2 linked regions of the Homo sapiens genome follow. The protein of the gene in region 1 purifies or fractionates together with the protein of each later gene. This does not show direct contact. Each region holds a gene or a part of one and is shown on either strand. Other genes may lie near its edges.

Evidence for each region.
Region 2: the proteins of ACVR1C (region 1) and DAGLB purify together in Homo sapiens (affinity purification with mass spectrometry; one large-scale study listed by BioGRID and IntAct). This does not show direct contact.

What each region holds. Positions count from the first base shown.
Region 1 is NC_000002.12:157,534,621-157,538,440, forward strand, and holds part of ACVR1C (activin receptor type-1C isoform 1 precursor), read right to left. Parts: intron 1-3,820. UniProt on the Homo sapiens protein: Serine/threonine protein kinase which forms a receptor complex on ligand binding. The receptor complex consists of 2 type II and 2 type I transmembrane serine/threonine kinases.
Region 2 is NC_000007.14:6,409,671-6,413,490, reverse strand, and holds part of DAGLB (diacylglycerol lipase-beta), read left to right. Parts: intron 1-456; coding exon 457-525; intron 526-607; coding exon 608-680; intron 681-3,110; coding exon 3,111-3,361; intron 3,362-3,455; coding exon 3,456-3,654; 3' UTR 3,655-3,820.

The sequences.
Region 1 (3,820 bases):
ATAAAAATTATGATCCAAGTATAAATATCAAAAATCCTGGACTTTAAAAATGAACTAGCAAAGAGATAAGACAAATACTAAGAGGGGAAAACAATGAAAATGCATGAAACCAGAGAAATACAGGAAAACGCTGAAGCAAGTGGCTGCCATAGGGGTATCTGCTACTCTCATGGTCTAGAACTTCGGAACTGATGGATCGCATGTAATAGAGAGTACAGCCCACAGCACACAGAAAGTTTCAGATCAAGATGCCAGCCAGGCGCAGTGTCTCATGCCTGTAATTCTAGCACTTTGGTAGGCCGAGGTGAGAGGATTGCTTAAGCCCAGGAGTTCAAGACCAACCTGAGTAACACAGGGAGACCCTGTCTCTACAAAAAATTTTAAAAACTTAGCCAGGCATGGTGGTCCCAGCTATGCAGGAGGCTGAGGTGAGAGGATTGCTTAGGCCCGGAAGTTCAAGGCTGCAGTGTGCCATGATCACACCACTGCACTCTAGCCTGGGTGACAGTGCAAGACTCTGTCCAAAAAAAAAAAAAAAAAAAGGCTTAGAAAGCCCTCAATTTAAGGATGACTATTTCCCTGAAACCTTCTAAGGCAAATTGCCTAAGTCCTTCTAACGGAAATTGCCTAAGTCTTGGCTCTTGGTGAAGGAAAAAACAAGCCCATGCCTTTAAACATTGCAGTAAACCTGAGCTCATAATGAAAATTCACAAACACATGAGGAAAAAAGGTACCATAAGCAAGAGTCCATTGTAAATAGTAGTTTTGGCCCATAGAAACATTAGATGCTAGAATTAAATGATATAAGTATATAAAATATATTTTTAAAAGGAAAGAGAAATACAAAATATGAGTAAAAAATGAGAATGTTTTAGAAAGTGAAAAAGTACCAATAAAATATCTTGATATCAAAAATATAACAATTGGCCAGGTGCGGTGGCTCACACCTGTAATTCCAACACTTGGAGAGGCCAAGGCGGGTGGATCACCTGAAGTCACAAGTTTGAGACCAGCCTGGCCAACATAGTGGTGCATGCCTGTAATCCCAGCTACTCCTGAGGCTGAGGCAGAAGAATCACTTGAACCTGGGAGGCGGAGGTAGCAGTAAGCTGAGATCATGCCACTGTACTCCAGCCTGGGCAACAAAGCAAGATTCTGCCTCAAAAAAATAAATAAATAAAGTAGCTATGCAGGACCATGGACTAGAGTTCAGGAGAGCACGAATTCTGCCTCCAGTTTTGAGCAACATATACGTTGTTCACTTCTCTGCCCTGACTCCTCATTATCCTCTAAGTTCCATGATGACAGGATTGTGGCCCCCTCATCGGCATATCCCTATGGACTGAGCCAGGCTTGGCACATACAAAGAGTCTAAATGCTCTAAAATAAAGGTTCAGAAATAAATAAATAAAGTAGAAAACTCGATGGATGAGTTAAATGGCAAATTAGACATATCTGAAGGCAGAATTAAAGAACTGAAAAATAAATCTTGAGAGATACATACCATAATGACACAAATATAGAAAATATGAGTGAATAAAAAAAGCAAAGTGTAATGAAAGCTCTAACATGCATCTAATGAGTTCTCCAAAACTGAGTAATAGAAACAATGAGAGAAAAAACTATTTGAAGAACTATGACTCCAAATTTTCCAGAACTGAGGAAAGCCACAAACCACTAGAATTAGATAGTCCAAATATTCCAAGCAAGATTAACCAGAGACATCTATACTGAAGACATCATAGAGAAACTGCAGAATGCTGAAGACAGAGAAGTTCTTAAAAGTAGTCATAAAGAAAAGATAAATTAACTAAAAATTTATTGATTGATTATTGCTGACTTCTCAATAGCACTAATGGAAGATAGGTAATAGTGGAATAATAACTTCAAGGTGTTTAGAGAAAATGACTGTTAACCTAAATTTCTATGGTTAGACAAACCATTTGTTCAAGATTGAGGACAAAATAAAGACATTTTGGATACCCCCAAACTGAAAAATCTTACAACCACTAGGTCTTCTCTAAAAAAATTAAATAAAATACTTTTAAAGGATTCACATCAGGAAGTCAGAAAATGATTTGAGAGGTAAGAAGAAATGTTGAGCAAAGAAAATGATAAACATGTGAATAAGTCTAAATAATGATGGTATAAAATGAGGCCAATATCTATTCCATGAGATTGACATAAAACAAGACAGAAACAAAATACTGGACAAAAAATGCATATATCAGGAATGTACAAAATTGTTCACACTAGAATGACTATGTTGGGTCTATTCCAAGAATGTATATTTGGTTTAACACTGGAAAATCTATAAATGTAAGTCATTGCATTAAAAAACTAAAGCAAAATGCTGTATCATCACCTCATAGATATAGCACATGCTTCTATTGTATGGAATACTACACAGCAATGAAAATGGACAGATTATAGCTACACATATATAATGGAGAGTAAAAACATTTTGAAAAGAATATCTACAGTAAGTTTCAATCACGTAAGTTTCACAAATATGCAAAAGTAAACAACATATTGTTATTCTGGATATATGTATATATTCTAAAAAAATACATATAGTAAAATTCAAAAGCAAAGCAAGAAATTAGTAAAGAAATAATTGATTATAATATAAGTAACCTCTCAGAGGGGTAAGGAATCTTCAAAGGTATTGAAAATGTTCTATTTTTCAAACCTGGTAGTGGATTCACTAGTTTTCATTCTATTATACTTTAAAAACTGTAAGTTTATATTGTTTCGTGTACATAAATTATTAATATTAGAAAATTTTTAATTTAATTTCAATTAAATTATAAATGCTTCAAAATTTGCTTCTCAAGTATGTAGGTAAGACATCTACACAAAATATAAAAATAACAAAACACAAATCTTGTGTTTTGAATTAGAAATTAGAAAAAGGATTGAGAAACATGATTAAATTAGAAAAGGGTTGAGAAACATGAAGGAAGAGAAAAATGAGGCAAAAAGGCAACTATATAAAATATTCCCCAAAACAAAGCCAGACTAAAAGACATCACCTAAAAAAGATCTCATTCATTACATTAAAATATGGCAAAAAAAATAGACAGCAATAACTGAAATGAGAGAGATTAAAGTATCAGAATGGTTCTGGAACTAGTTAGATGGTTTAGAGTCTTTTTCCCACCTTCTACTCTTTTTCCTTGTAAGAGCTAGAAAAAATCTCTATCTTCACATAAGGCATAACAAGCATTGCAATAACCACTTACTATTTGTCTAGTACATTATGGTTAAATACTGGTTTGCTGGAGATGACAAGATAAATAACAATGGAGTCTCTGATGTGAGGGAGCTTTTCTAATGAGAGAATAAGTTCAAACTTTAGCAGGTTAGAGATGAGGTATAACTTATTGAATGTAAAGATGGTTGGAATTGTAATATTCTGTGTGGCAGAGACATTAACTACCCACTGAGTCTACCCATGTTCCCTGCAGTGCCTAGCCCCCCTGCAGGTGGTGGGACCATGTGACAAGTTCTGGTAGGAGCCATAAGTGGAAAAGATGTGTGTCACCTGATGCCAAAGCATTAAAGGGTCAGTGTGTGATCTTCCAGCTCCTCTCTTCACCTGACCTAGAGATCTGGAAACTGTGTCCAAGGATCAGATCAGAGTGATTACTGAGTTACTGCAATGAGAACAGGTGCCATGGAGAGTTGCCTAACCTGCAGAGCAGTTTGTGTAAGCAAGAAATAAAGTCTTGTGGAAAGTCACTGAGATTTCAGGATTTGCTACTGTCATGTAACCTAGCATTATGCATGCACAGCACTAAAGGGGAAAAAATCCTTC
Region 2 (3,820 bases), on another chromosome or scaffold:
GCCTGGCTAATTTTTTGTATTTTTAGTAGAGACGGGCTTTTACCGTGTTAGCCAGGATGGTTTCAATCTCCTGACCTTGTGATCCGCCTGCCTCGGCCTCCCAAAGTGCTGGGATTACAGGCGTGAGCCACTGCACCCGGCCTCCAGTGCATCTTTGATGGAGTCTTCCAAGCGCGGTTTCTGGGTCAAAGGACAGATCCATGTGCTTGGTCCGCCTTGGTGTCCAGTTTGCGGTTTTAGCTGCGGGGCGTCTCTGTTGAACACATATTGTGGCTTTAGTAGGATCTGGCCAGTGAGTTGCCATAACTGACGTTTCCCCTACCCTCCCTTTAGAGAAGAGAGAACAGAGCTGAGGCCTGGGAACCTAACCCCTCAGTGTTACTGATTTCTTTCATGGAAGCCCTTGTGGGCAGTGTCATCGTAAAGCTAACATCCTCTCTCTGTTTGGAATTTCAGCAAAGCTCTGCAGGAATATTCTCAGAGCTTCATCGTGTCACTCGTCCTGGGGAAGGATGTGATTCCCAGGTAAGCCCACCTGGTGCTGTGCCCAGGGCTGGGGGGTTGGGAGTGCCAGGTCCCAGCCTCAGTGTGCCCCTTTGCTAAACAGGCTCAGTGTGACCAACTTGGAAGATCTGAAGAGAAGAATCTTGCGAGTGGTCGCGCACTGCAATAAACCCAAGGTAAGCGGGTGCCTTGTTGAGAGGGTCAGCAGGACACGGGGCCTGTCCCTGAGATCCTGTGGAGAGCCGGGAGGAATTGCACCCTCAGTGCAGGGCACTCTATGCTGTTGCTGGAAGTTCTCCTTCCACCATCTGATCAGATTCTGGGCTAGGACTCTGTGATGTCTAAGAAAGCAAATGGCTGCAGCAAGTGCGGGAAATGTCACAGGGAGGAAACAGGATCTGGGCTGGGAGCAGTGGTGTATGCCTGGAATCCCAGCACCTCAGGAGGCCAAGGCAGGAGGATCCCTTGAGGCCAACCTGGGCAACACAACAAGACCCTGTCTCTATTCTAAAAAAAAAAAAAGAAAAGAAAATACTCTGGAGGAACTGTTTGATTTTGCTTTCTGACAAACTTCTTAGTCCTGTCTTGTGACTAACAGTTTGTTAATGCCTTTTGGCTTTGTTGTCCGAAAGCTTAGAAAGCAAGGCTGCCAAATAGACCTTAAGAGGTACAGGCACATTTATCTACACTGTGGATATCATGCAGTTATTAAAATGGTGATATATGTCCACGTCAAGGGTTTTTTAACATGGTGGTAGAAATTTATGTCTGCTGGCCAGGCGCGGTGGGTCACGCTTGTAATCCCAGCCCTTTGGGAGGCTAAGGCAGGCAGATCACCTGAGTCAGGAGATCGAGACCAGAGTGGTCGACATGGCAAAACCCCGTCTCTAGTAAAAATACAAAAATGAGCCAGGGGTGGTGGTGAGTGCCTGTAATCCCAGCTACTTGGTAGGCTGAGGCAGAAGAATCGCTTGAACCCAGGAGGCCGAGGTTGCATAAGCCAAGATCGCACTCCAGCCTGTTGGATAGAGTGAGGCTCTGTCTCCAAAAAGAAGAAATTTCTGTCTGCCGATAAAGATAGATATCCATTGAAAAGTTCAAAAGAAAAAAAACTTAAAAATTATTCTTAAGAGATATGACTCATGGCAGAGAGTGGGGACAAGGAGATACAGATATATGAATTTTGACAAAAATTTGAAAATACGTATGCCAAGGGTGGTTTTGTTTAGTGTCGGTAGAGATGATTTTTACTTGTTTAATCCCTTTGTTTTCTGACCTTTCTCATGGTTTTGTTCCTAATCAGAAAGAAGAAACGCAATTTAAATTTTTCTCCTTACCAATTACCTCCCCCAGTTTTTTCTTTTTTGAGACAGGGTCTCGCTTTGTCACCCAGGCTGGAGTGCAGTGGCGCAGTCTCGGCACATTGCAGCCTCCCAAGTTCAACTGATCCTCCCACCTCAGCCTCCTGAGTAGCTGGGGCTACACTACAGGCATGCGCCAACACACCTGGCTAATTTTTGTATTTTTTGTAGAGACAGGGTCTTACCATGTTGCCCAGGCTGGTCTCAAACTTCGGGGCTGAAGCAATCTGCTTGCCTTGACCTCCCAAAGTGCTGGGATTACAGGTGTGAGCCACTGCTGTGCCCAGCCTAAAATTTTTTTTAGAAATTAGTATCTAGGGCGGGCCCGGTGGCTCACGCCTGTAATCCCAGCACTTTGGGAGGCTGAGGTGGGTGGATCACCTGAGGTCGGGAGTTCGAGACCAGCCTGACTAACATGGAGAAACCCCGTCTCTACTAAAAATACAAAAAATTAGGCCGGGCGCGGTGGCTCACGCCTGTAATCCCAGCACTTTGGGAGGCCAAGGCGGGTGGATCACGAGGTCAGGAGATAGAGACCACGGTGAAACCCCGTCTCTATTAAAAATACAAAAAATTAGCCGGGTGCGGTGGCGGGTGCCTGTAGTCCCAGCTACTCTGGTGGCTGAGGCAGGAGAATGGCGTGAACCCGGGAGGCGGAGCTTGCAGAGAGCCAAGATTGTGCCACTGCACTCCAGCCTGGGCAACAGAGTGAGACTCCGTCTCAAAAAAAAAAAAAAAAAAAAAATACAAAAAATTAGCCGGGCATGGTGGCAGGAGCCTGTAAGCCGAGCTACTCAGTAGGCTGAGGTAGGAGAATCGCTTGAATTCGGGAGGCAGATTGTGGAGCCAAGATCACGCCATTGCGCTCCAGCCCATAGAAATTAATATCTAATGCCTTTCAGGGAAGGAAGGGTAAAGCTGATTTCCAGAATTGCCGGAAAATAATTAAGGGAAATATCCCTCACAGTCTGTATGGCTTAGTTTTTAATATTGCTCCACGTGTGATGGTTTTACTGCCCAAGAGAGAGCCCACACTCATGATCTGTGACTAGGCATAGAGCCTTGTCCTGAGCCGAGGTGGCTGCCACCCAGCACAGCTCGCCGGTGCATCTTTGCTGGAGTCTTCCAAGCGGGGTTTCTGGGTCAAAGGGCAGATTCCTGTGCCTGGTCCGCCTTGGTGTTTCGGGAGGTCTCGGGTGACAGAGGGTGAGTGACAGCATTCTACTGATTGGGTCTCGCCCTCAGTACAAGATCTTGCTGCACGGTTTGTGGTACGAACTGTTTGGAGGAAACCCCAACAACTTGCCCACGGAGCTGGACGGGGGCGACCAGGAAGTCCTGACACAGCCTCTTCTGGGGGAGCAGAGCCTACTGACGCGCTGGTCCCCGGCCTACAGCTTCTCCAGCGACTCCCCACTGGACTCTTCTCCCAAGTACCCCCCTCTCTACCCTCCCGGCAGGATCATCCACCTGCAGGAGGAGGGCGCCTCGGGGCGGTGAGTGCGGCGTGGTGGGTGTGGTGGGCAGGCAGGAGCAGCGCGGGGTCAGCCCTGGGGCCGCGTGGGAGCTGTCTCTCCTTTTCTGCTTCAGGTTTGGCTGCTGCTCTGCTGCTCACTATAGCGCCAAGTGGTCACACGAAGCGGAATTCAGCAAAATACTCATAGGTCCGAAGATGCTCACCGACCACATGCCAGACATCCTGATGCGGGCCTTGGACAGCGTGGTCTCCGACAGAGCGGCCTGCGTCTCCTGTCCAGCACAAGGGGTCTCCAGTGTGGACGTGGCCTGACCAGGGCCACTGGAAACTGTCCCAGGAACGATGGACTCACGCTTTTGTCCTTAAACTGACTTACCATCCGAGGAGTTCCCATGACGCCAAAACAGCGAATGTCCATCAACAGGAATCGGATGGGAACAGAATTCCATGGTCTCAATGACTTAAGTTTATGGGAAGT